3 linked regions of the Homo sapiens genome follow. The protein of the gene in region 2 interacts with the protein of the main gene of each other region in a pairwise test. Each region holds a gene or a part of one and is shown on either strand. Other genes may lie near its edges.

Region 1 (3,751 bases), on a different chromosome or scaffold from region 2:
AAAGAAAAAAAGAAAAGAAAATATCTGATACTGTGTTCTGTGAAAAAAATTACCAAGATATTAAACACTATGGTTACAATTTCGTATTTAAGTGTAGGAAGACTACACGCGAAAGCAAAAATAACTATTTGAGTTGAGTGTCCGAATGAAGAAATTTCTTTTTTTTTTCCTCTCTTTTGAGATAGGGTCTAGTTCTGACACCCAGGCTGGAGTGCAGTGGCATGATCTCAGCTCAATGCTGCCTTGACGTCCTCAGCTCACTGCAGCCTTGATGTCCCCAGCTCAAGTGATTCCCCCGCCTCAGCCTCCTGAATAGCTGGGACCACAGGCACTCATCACCAGGCCCAGCTATTTTTTGTGTTTTTGTAGAGACAAGGTTTCACCAAGTTGCCCTGGCTGGTCTCGAATTCCTGGACTCAAGCAATCCGCTTGCCTCAGCCTCCCAAAGTGCTGGGACTACAGGCATGAGCCACCTTACCTGGCCAAGAAATTTCTTTCTCCAAAAAATTGGATTTGGTGGTGCTAAAGTTTTTTAAAAAAAATTAACTGTAAGAAAACAAATAGCATTTTATAGTTCTTCAAGTGGCTTTACAAAAATGTAATAACCAATCTTTTATTTTTTAATTTACTTTTTTCTTTTTTGAGACAGAGTCTCGCTCTGTCACCCAGGCTGGAATGCAGTGGCATGACCTCGGCTCACTACAACCTCCTCCTCCCGGGTTCCAATGATTCTCAGCCTCCTGAGTAGCTAGGACTACAGGCGTGCACCACCACACCCAGCTAATTTTTGTATTTTTAGTAGAGAGAGAGTTTCATCATGTTGGCCAGGTTGGTCTTGAACTCCTGACCTCAAGTGATCCACCCACCTCGGCCTCCCAAAGTGCTGCGATTACAGGCATGAGCCACTGCGCCTGGCTTAATCAACCTTTTAGACCCAATTATTTCTGAGATTTTGTCCTAAAGAAAATTCAGAAGTAAAATAAAAATATCTGCAAAGATAGTCAGTGTGAAAGTTCATTCATGGCAACATTAAAAAATTTAAAATGAGCTTAACTTTATGGCCAGGTGTGCCAGCTTTTGCCTGTAATCTCAGCACTTTGGGAGGCTGAAGCGGGCAGATCACTTGAGGCCAGGAGTTTGAGACCACCCTGGCCAAGAAACCCCATCTCTACTAAAAATACCAAAAAAAAAAAAAAAAAAGCCAGGCATGGTGGCTCCATGCCTGTAGTCCCAGCTACTCAGGAGGCTGAGGTAGGAGAATTGCTTGAGGCTGGGAGGCGGAGGTTGCAGTGAGTCGAGATCGTGACACTGCACTCCAGCCTGGGCGACAGAGCGAGACCCCGTCCTAAACAAAAACAAAAGAAAACAACAACAACAAAACCACTGAATAAAAAAAAAAGAGCCTAACTTGGCAGTTCCTACAATAGGGAAATAGTTAAATGTATTTTGTATATTGACTCAAGGAAACTTAAAACACTCATTAAAAAACGGAAATCAGCACTTTAGGAGGCAGAGGCGGGCAGATCACCTAACGTCAGGAGTTCGAGACCAGCCTAGCCAACACAGTGAAACCCCATCTCTACTAAAAATACAAAAATGAGCTGGGGGTGGTGGCGGGCACCTGTAATCCCAGCTACTAGGGAGGCTGAGGCAGGAGAATCGCTTGAACCCAGGAGACGGAGGTTGCAGTGGGCCGAGATCATGCCATTGCACTCCAGCCTGGGCGACAAGAGGAAAACTCTGTCTCATTTAAAAAAAAAAGGAAATCAGAAAGACTGTAGCAACACATAGAAAAATGTTCATAGCATAATGCTTAATTATAAAGCAAGATACAAAAATTTATTTACAATTATAATTATGAAATAAATGATACATATACAGCAGAAAAAATATAAAAAGAAATAATAAACTAGGAATAGAATTATAGGTAAAGTTTCACCATTACTGTTGTAATGCTGTTGTTTGTACAGTAAAAAATCTAAATATATATATGATATATATCATATATATGATATCATATATATATGTATTTTTTTTTGAGACAGAGTCTTGCTCTGTCGTCCAGTTTGGAGTGCAGTGGCGCGATCTCAGCTCACTGCAACCTCCACCTCATGGGTTCAAGTGATTCTCCTTTTTTTGTGTTTTTAGTAGAGATGGGGTTTCACCGTATCAGCAAGGATGATCTCGATCTCCTGACCGTGTGATCCGCCCGCCTCAGCCTCCCAAAGTGCTGGGATTGCAGGCGTGAGCCACCACACCTGGCCCATGCCTGGGTAATTTTTATAGTTTTTTAGAGAGAGGGATTTTGCCATGTTGCCCAGGTTTGTCTGGAACTTCTGGGCTCAAGTGATTTGCCCACCTTGGCCTACCCAAGTGCTGGAATTGCGGGCATGAGCCACCATGCCTGGCCTGCTGTCACCTTTATTTATTTTTTTTGAGACAGAGTCTCGCTCTGTCACCCAGGCTAAAGATAGTTTTTTGTTTTTTTTTTTTGAGATGGAGTTTTGCTCTTATTGCCCACACTGGAGTGCGATGGCGTGATCTCGGCTCACTGCAACCTCCACCTCCCAGGTTCAAGTGATTCTCCTGCCTCAGCCTCCCAAGTAGCTGGGATTACAGGAGCCCGCCACCATGGCTGGCTAATTTTTGTATTTTTTCAGTAGAGATGGAGTTTCTCCATGTTAGCCAGGCTGTTCTAGAACTCCCGACCACAGGTGATCCACCCTCCCCGGCCTCCCAAAGTGCTGGGATTACAGGCGTGAGCCACCGCGCCTGGCCTAAAGATAGTTTTACTTGTTTGTTATCATACTATCAACATTTTTAGAACACAGATTAGGAAATATCCCATAATCTATAAAATTAGTTTACTAAAATCAAGTCATTCAAAAAGTGTAATTAAATATACATTTGTATTTAAATACAAACTAAACAAACTAAATAGCATGCAATTCAAGATTTTTTTCTATTTTAATATTTTTTCTATATTAATTTTGTACTGCCATTTTCTCTTTTTTTTTTATGGAGTTTCGCTCGTTGCCCAGGCTGGAGTGCAATGGCGCGATCTCAGCTCACCACAACCTCCGCCTCCCAGGTTCAAGCAATTCTCCTGCCTCAGCCTCCTCAGTAGCTAAGATTACAGGCACGTGCCACCACACCACGCTAATTTTGTACTTTTAGTGGAGACGGAGTTTCTCCACGTTGGTCAGACTGGTCTTGAACTCCTGACCTCAGGTGATCCACCCACCTCTGCCTCCCAAAGTGCTGGGATTACAGGCATGAGCCACCACGCCCAGCCTTATTTTCTCTTTTTTAAAGATGTATTATCTGAGCAAATTGCAACACATCAGTAGTACCAGAAAGCCATGGTCTGGTCCTGGTGCTGTTCCTAATTCATTCTGCAACTTGATTTCTGACATTTTAGTACTTGTAGGTCCCTACATCACAGAAATCACAATAAATAAGAAACTACATGAGAAAATAAAGATGCTGAGTTTTTTGTGTATTGATATTTAAATGTTATGAAAAACAGAACAAGGTTCTGACGTGGTCAAGCTGATAGCACCCCAAAGCGGTTAGTTCCAGGACCCTTGCAAAACAAAATCCGTGGATACTCAAGGCTTATATAAAATAGTATTTTTTTTTTTTTTGAGACGTGTCTTGCTCTGTCCTCAGGCTAGAGTGCAATGGTGCGATCTCAGCTCACTGCAACCTCCGCCTCCAGGGTCCAAGTGATTCTCCTGCCTCAGCCTCC
Region 2 (3,751 bases):
TTAGGACAAACATGAAACATTATGGACTAATTGTACAGATGACAATTCCAACAGTGATTATTTTAAACTTAGCACTTGATAGCTGTGTGTGAGAGTTCTGGCCTCAGATAAAGTAGTCAAATGCCCTGCTAAGCAATATAAATGGCAGTATTCCATTGATGGCAAGGCCTCTTTCTCGGCCTTTAATTTGCGTCCAGGAGGCATAACCCAAAGTTCCCTTTCCCTTGTGCGTGGCTGAGGGCGAATGAAACTTGGGCCATTCTTCTTTCATCAATTAATTTCCTCTGCCAGTCCCAGCACTCCATTTTTCTTCTGTTGTGTTTCAGCAATGCGAACACATCGATCATGAAAAGTATTAGGCAATCTTCACAGATTGCACCAGAGAAACTTAACTTAAACAGCACGCTGCAAGTCAGTCCCTAGACTCAGCAGAGGGAAGCAGGGAGGCTTTGCACAGAGACATGGGGGCCTGCGTTCCGGGCTCATTTCCTGTTGTTCTCATTGTCATTGCCATTCTGATCAGCTGCTTCGGTTTTCACAGAGCTCCCCTCCCCCGGCTTGTTTTTATTCTGTGTTTCCTCCAGATACTGCTGGACAGCCTTGAGCACCGCGTTCTCCACCAGCCTCTTACTGAGCCTTACTAGTTCAGCGTCATCGGGCTCCCCTCCGTTCTTTTCACCTACATTCCACAATAGAGAAGAGAGGTCACTGAGATCACATTGCCATAGAAACTTGGCATGCAGGGGCCGGCTAGTTCCATTGGTTAAAAAGAGCAAGTGTAAATTGGATCTATAAATTCAAGAACAGTGGGTTGGCTTTTCATTTGGTATTTGCAGAAGCAGGAGCCTGTCTATTCCTGAAGGCTTCAGATTGAAAAGTAGTTCATTAGTCCCAATCTAGACAAGCTCTACCTACCAATGCCGGATGTTTCCCATTTATATGTGAATTTCTGTTCTTCTCTCATCCAAGGCTAATTACTACTACTAACGTCCATGTCCCCACCACGTGGAGTCTCAGACATGTGAATTCACTAAGTAGGCCTATGTCTGCTTCTCATTCTCGAATATCAAATATCAGGTCATCAAGATTTCCCTAGCATCTCATTACTTAAGATCACTAATTTAAAAATGCTTGGCCTATAGGTTGGTTGTTAATAAATGCTCAGTGCTGCCTTGAAGATAAAGGCAGTTACTACCACTAGGAATTGGTTTAAAGTAAGCTTGTAAGACTAATATTTTTTTTAATCCCAGTGCTATCACTGCAATTTAAGAAATAGGAAATTCTTTAAAGAAAAATTAGGATTATGATGATAAATTACTAGATGTAAATATTTTATGGTCATTTTACTTCCCTGGGAGTGATAATCCAGGTCTAATTATTCCATCTTTCATTTTATTCTAAAAGAGCTGGTTCCCAACTATTCTCATGCTACACATTTCCCAGTCACTCTCTTTCAGACTCCTTTAACTGGGAAAAGGAACTAAGGGGCTCCTTCCCCAGTTAAGGGAGACAAAGAAGAGAGTGACCATTCAGTGCTCAATCTCCTCCCATCGAGCTGGGGACCCAGGAAAGAACAAGGTTGGAAGCAAAGAAGTCACAGGATGCTCGCACATTAAGATCAGCTCAGTTTTGCAAGATTACCCATGGGTTCTAGAAGGCAAAGCCAGTGAGTGTTGCACTTGCATCTCTGGGTCTGAGACAGGCAGATACAAAGGGTGTGAGCTGGAAGATGGACACTGTTTCCTGTACTCACATGTAATAGGGATTGAAGAACAGAAGCAGGTATGCCAAGGGTGAGAACTGGCCCCCAACCTTGCTTCAGAGCCCCCTACTTGTATGTAACACCCATCAAGACTAATTGTGCTTATAACCATCCCCATCATTCCTAGCAACACCCTAAGCAGAAGAGAGGGTAGGATAAGACCCATCTAGAAACACTAATAGTGGGAACCCTTAGCAACTGCCTTCTCCTCAAATATGGGCAATATGGCACCCCAGACCCATGATCAGATGTCCAAGATAGAACATCTGCAGTGCAAAATATGTTTAGAATTGAGTAAATGTCAACTCAGTAATAACTAAATAGAACTTACTAAATAATACGGTTAAAGAAATTCATTGGTAATGTATTTACTATGAAAGTAAATTCATTGGTAATGTCATGTTGGGTGGCAAGTTAAGACTTTTTGTTTATCAGTAGGAATGAATGAATATATTGCCTAATATTTAGGGATTTTATCTCAACCTTACAACACGGTGTTTATACTCTACAGACAACATCTCCAAATGCATTAACTGGAACTGTTTGTATAATGACTCTTCCCATTTAAAAGGGAAAAATCCAACTGCAAATGAAGGAATACTTTTTAAGTACCCTCCAAAACACTGTAAATGACTGTCTACATCTGCCATCCTACTTGTGCTCTGTATCAAGGCCAGACATTGCACCCTGGGGGCTGTTCCTGAATCTAGTCAGCTTTCTCATCAGCAAGATGACAGGGTTGAATTTGAGTCCAATGAATGGCTCAACCTCCAAATCCCTTTTGGGTCTAATGTTCCATGCTTCTGTGATTTCTACTAGTCCACAGTGAAGTGTCCCTGTTATCTTAAACACAAGAATCTTCCTACAAAAAGCTAATTTTGGCCAGGCGCGGTGGCTCACGCCTGTAATCCCAACACTTTGGGAGGCTGAGGCAGGTGGATCACGAGGTCAAGAGATCGAGACCATCCTGGCCAACATGGTGAAACTCTGTCTCTACTAAAAATACAAAAATTAGCTGGGCGTGGTGGCATGCACCTGTAGCCCCAGCTACTCAGGGGGCTGAGGCAGGAGAATCACTTGAACTCAGGAGGCAGAGGTTGCAGTGAGCCGAGATCGTGCAACTGCACTCCGGCCTGGTGACAGAGTGAGACTGTCTCAAAAAAGAAGAAAAAAAAAGTGAATTTTCCCTGCTGATGTCCTATTTTTGTTTATGCTGTTACTATTATTCGAGGCAGTCAAGCTCAAAACGAGATTGTAGCCATCTTTGATGCCTTCCTTTCCCTCATTAACCCCCTTAATTACCAAGCTTTGTCAATTGTGCTTCATGATTTCTCCCGTCTTCAATGTGCCAGGTATAAAACCTTTAGTTATTATTTCTAATACATCTCTGTCACTATTTACTCTACAGAGAAACGTCTGTCTGCCAAGGCTTTCCAAAATTTGCCTTTCCTGGCTGCCTGCCCACCACTGCACACCTCCACTGTCAGCTTCCAACATCTCCTCAGAGGCTTCCACACCATTCCCAATTTCTAGACGACCCTCCCTCTCTTTCAGCAATTAGAATACCATCTACTCCATGAAACCTTTCCTGATTAGCTAATGTAGTGTGGATTTGTGTCCCCACCCAAATCTCCTGCGGAACTGTAATCCCCAATGCTGGAGGAAGGACCTGGTGGGAGGTAACTGGATCATGGAGGTGTGTTTCCCACTTGCTGTTCTCATGATAGTGAGTGAGTTCTCATGAGATCTGGTTGTTTGAAAATGTGTAGCACCTCCCCCATTTTCTCCCTTCCTCCTGCTCTGGCCGTGTAAGATATGCCTGCTTCCCCTTCACCTTCTGCCATGATTGTAAGTTTCCTGAGGCTTCCCCAGCCATGCTTCCTGTACAGCCTGTGGAACCATGAGCCAACTAAACCTCTTTTCTTTATAAATTACCCAGTTTCAGGTATTTCTTTACAGCAATGCAAGAACGGACTAATACCCTATACT
Region 3 (3,751 bases), on a different chromosome or scaffold from region 2:
TTTCCAAACTGGTATTCCACCTTTCAAATCAGTTTGTCTGTGCCGTTATTGCAGAACAGTTTCATATACCCCAGTGAATATCAGTTTATTTAAAGAGTGCAGAATTCTTTTTGCAGTACTTAAAATACTTTCAAATGGAAGGAATCAAAATTGAAAGGAAACCACAGATACTCATCTCAGGAATAACAGTCAGCTGCCAGGGATGCATAGGAACAGTATGCTGGAACGTGGCGAGGGTAGACTGTATGATCTTTTTTTCCCCCACTGATTTCTCCCGAGAAATGTATGCTCTTTTGCAGTTACCTTCCACGCTGTATGTCCGTGAGAAATACAATGAAGACGGTCTGAATAATGAACTGGTAATCTTCGATAATATGAAACGAATTTAAGAGAACATATCAAAGAGGTACATACTGTTTCAAAGAGCAAGAACTGTTATCTGAAACTCCCTGCCTCATAAAAGGCTTTCTGCAGAATGGAGATGGTCTTAAGCAAGTTTTACCATAAACAAATGCTTAGTTTCTTATTTTAAAAAATGACTAATTTTAGAAAGCTTACTCTCTCTTTTCTCTAGAAGGCTCTCAAAATAGGCTGCTGCAAAAGCTGGTATATTGTCCGGTTGCTCTCTCAGAATCTCGCGTGTCAGCCCTTCAAGAAGATTCCCAAATCCTTGTGGAATTCGGTAGTGGGTGTTGGAGAATGGAATCGACATCTTCTTGGTAAGAACTGCCTATGGAACCTAAAGATTCATTAAAGAGTACTGTCTTTAAATTTGTCTGATTTTACTTATATAATCACAACTATGCCAACAAATTATTTCTGAGACTCATACATCTGGACTTGAATTCTTTTTTCCCTAACACAACCCAAGCCCATCCATTTCTTCCAAAGAGTTTTGAAATCTCCATTGTGAATTAGTATAATACAAACACAGACCCATTCACTAGGCCAAATCATTTAAAATCCTGCAAAAAACCCATAATTTTCAATATGACTTTTTCTCTCTTTACCCTTTATATGCTCAAAAGGTAAGGGTAATTTTTGCTATCACACAGGAATTTAGAGAGAATGATTGCTAAAAAGTTAAATTCATTGTCAATTGCTGAGAAGACCTTCTTTGAGGTCTATTTTTTTTTAAAGAGTAGAAATTAGTCCTGGTTCTAGAAATTAATTTGTTGAATGAAGAAGTTGCACAATCTTTCCCCTTGCTGCCACTTCTGAAGCATGACCCACAATGCTTCGAACACCTTCGTACTGTGGAATGGGGTTGTGCGTGCGTGTGTGTGAGGGAGGGATGGGATGGGATGGGGCTGTGTGTCATGATTTTGAAATCCCAGCCTCTAAAGTTTTAGAATTCTTATATTTTTCGGTTTCTTCTTGATCAGGTTGTCTCTTTCTGTCTTGAAATACAAGGGCTAGATTAAGGGTAGCTGCTAAGCAGCGGGCTGAGCTACTACTGAGTATGAAAAGAATCCTCCGGGACCTGGCCTGTTAATGTGAGAGTGTGCGTCAATGCGGAATAGAGGCGGAGGCCGTGGTAGGGGTCCAGGTTGGGAGAACTGGACGGTTTAATGAGGCTCAGACTATGGAGGGTTCTCGTTTCATCGCTTTTTTTTTCTTTGAGAGGGGGTCTCTGGCCTCGAACTCCTGGGCTCCAGCGATGATCCCGCCTCAGCCTCCCGAGCAATTGGGATTACAGGCGCGCGCCACCACGCCTGACTCCTCTCTTTTGCTTTTTCTGAGGGAGCAGTAGATGGGGGTATCGAACCATTCTAGAGTGGTGAAAAGAGCTGGCGAGATTCTGAACCAATGTGGGCAGAGGAGGGCGGGCGGAGGGGGCAGACGGGTCTAGTCGGGGGCGGGATGTTGAGGACCTGGGATTTCAGACTCGCGCAGAATGGGCTGCCTCGGCTCCCAAACGGCCCAGGGCTCCGAGGCTGTGTCTGGGATGCTGAGAGAATAAGAGAGACGAAGGGAAAAGGCTAGGTCTTGGTATCGGAGAGGAAGTGGGGAAGCGGCCTCACCTCCTTTCTCTCCGAGCTGGTGCCGCCGGTTCCGGTTGTTTTTCTAGTTGCTGGGTAACCGTTTTTTCTTTAAAAAAAAAAAAAAACTACGGCGGCCGAGAAGGGGCGAGTACAGCCCAGTCCTGAGGTCGCGGGAGGCTGCGAGGACTGCAAAAGGGTGGAGTCGGCCTCGCCCCCGCCCAGGCCCCGCCCCTGCCGGGAACCCACTTTCCCAGTCCTAGGCGGCGGTCAGATCCTTGCAAGCATGGTCGCGCCGGGGCTTGTACTCGGGCTGGTGCTGCCATTAATCCTGTGGGCCGACAGAAGTGCAGGTGAGGCGGCCCGGCTCGGCCGGACCCCTGCCCCTCAGCCTGTGCGGGCTCCGAGACCCCGTGTCCTCTGCGGGACACGGATCCGCGCCCCTTTCTCAAGGTCGACGAAGGAACCTAGCTAGGCTAGGGGCTCGCGTCTCCGACCGAGGCCCGGTCTGCAGGAGTCTGCTGGGTTGAACCCCGGCCTCTCCACTTTCTCCACCCCCCACTTACCATCCCTGACATGCAGCCTGTGAGCAGGGAGAAAGTGCGGCTTGTCTGAGTGGGGAGGCCCAAATGTGCCCAGAAAGAGGCCTTCGGGGTCCTGGAGTAACTGCAGGGGAGCTCGGAGGGAAGGAGGCGAAGCTAGTTAGGTAATATTTGGAAACAGGTGACTGAATCTTCCAAAACATTTCAGCGCTACCCCCTCAGTGGTGCCCTTGGGGAGGGTTTGCTTCAGGCGGGGTTCCTTAGGGGAATTAAATTTTACTCGTTTAAGTGGTTATCAGGGCTAAGAAATACAACCCCCTCACTAGCTCTGACTATTTAAGGCTCAGTTTTGATTTCTGGTACCGCTTACAGATATTGGTGGTGGGAAAATGTGAGTGGCATAGGGGAGGCTGGTGGCTCCCTTTGGCTGTTGCGCAGGTCAGATCTTGCCATTCGAATACCCTAGGCTGGACACTGGGTCACAGTATGGAGAAAGCAGAAGGTGCAATCTGTCTGATAATGCAAACTAAAGTGATAATGTTGGATTTCTTCCTTTCTGTTTCAAAACACTCAAAGAGTGGACCCCAGAGATCCCTGTTAAGAAATGATAGTTGGGGTAGGAGAACAGCGTGCAGAAAAATGACTCCTGCTCTACCTGAGAGCCGGAAAAGTACCTAGATTCAGACAAACTGCAGCCCATAAATGATTGTTCAGAGTCTAACAAAAGTGCAAAATGCTAGCACTCTGTATGCCATTTCCTGACTCTTATCTCCACTCAGTGACCTTTGAGATCCATCTTATGAGGTGGGGAAAAGATATTTTATTAGGTTTTCAGTTAAAGGCTGTTTATTTTAGTGTCAGTATTTTATCTCCTCCTTTGGGTCTTATTGTTACATCACCTTCATTAACATTGATCACATTTTTCATTCATTAGTACTCTACTTGGTTGCGTATCCTGACGTTTTTCCTTTAAGTCATTCTCCCTGTGCCCATGTTTACCATGTAATGCTTGAGATGTACAAAATTATATGTAACAATGACACAATAAAATGAACACCCATGAGAGCAGTACCCAACTTAAGAACTAGAACATTGCCAGTCTATTGAGCCTGCCATTGTGCTCCTCGCCAATGCATCCGGAGCTCCTCACCAGAGGCAACCACTGCCCTCTCTTCCCCATAACACTAATTCCTGTTTTTCTACTCCAGCCCCAAATGAAGGAAAAAA

Evidence for each region.
Region 1: the proteins of AKAP7 (region 2) and CEP76 interact in a two-hybrid assay, tested with the Homo sapiens proteins (3 studies listed by BioGRID).
Region 3: the proteins of AKAP7 (region 2) and SPA17 interact in a two-hybrid assay, tested with the Homo sapiens proteins (3 studies listed by BioGRID and IntAct).

What each region holds. Positions count from the first base shown.
Region 1 is NC_000018.10:12,682,005-12,685,755, forward strand, and holds part of CEP76 (centrosomal protein of 76 kDa), read right to left. Parts: intron 1-3,751. UniProt on the Homo sapiens protein: Centrosomal protein involved in regulation of centriole duplication. Required to limit centriole duplication to once per cell cycle by preventing centriole reduplication.
Region 2 is NC_000006.12:131,278,458-131,282,208, reverse strand, and holds part of AKAP7 (A-kinase anchoring protein 7), read right to left. Parts: intron 680-3,751; coding exon 483-679; 3' UTR 1-482. UniProt on the Homo sapiens protein: Probably targets cAMP-dependent protein kinase (PKA) to the cellular membrane or cytoskeletal structures.
Region 3 is NC_000011.10:124,672,226-124,675,976, reverse strand, and holds the start of SPA17 (sperm surface protein Sp17), read right to left. Parts: upstream 2,074-3,751; 5' UTR 2,025-2,073; exon of another isoform or gene 1,875-2,024; intron 1,784-1,874; exon of another isoform or gene 1,484-1,783; intron 740-1,483; 5' UTR 713-739; coding exon 559-712; intron 553-558; exon of another isoform or gene 415-552; intron 407-414; exon of another isoform or gene 1-406. Other genes in the region: SIAE (sialate O-acetylesterase isoform 1 precursor), read left to right, coding at 2,269-2,335. UniProt on the Homo sapiens protein: Sperm surface zona pellucida binding protein. Helps to bind spermatozoa to the zona pellucida with high affinity. Might function in binding zona pellucida and carbohydrates.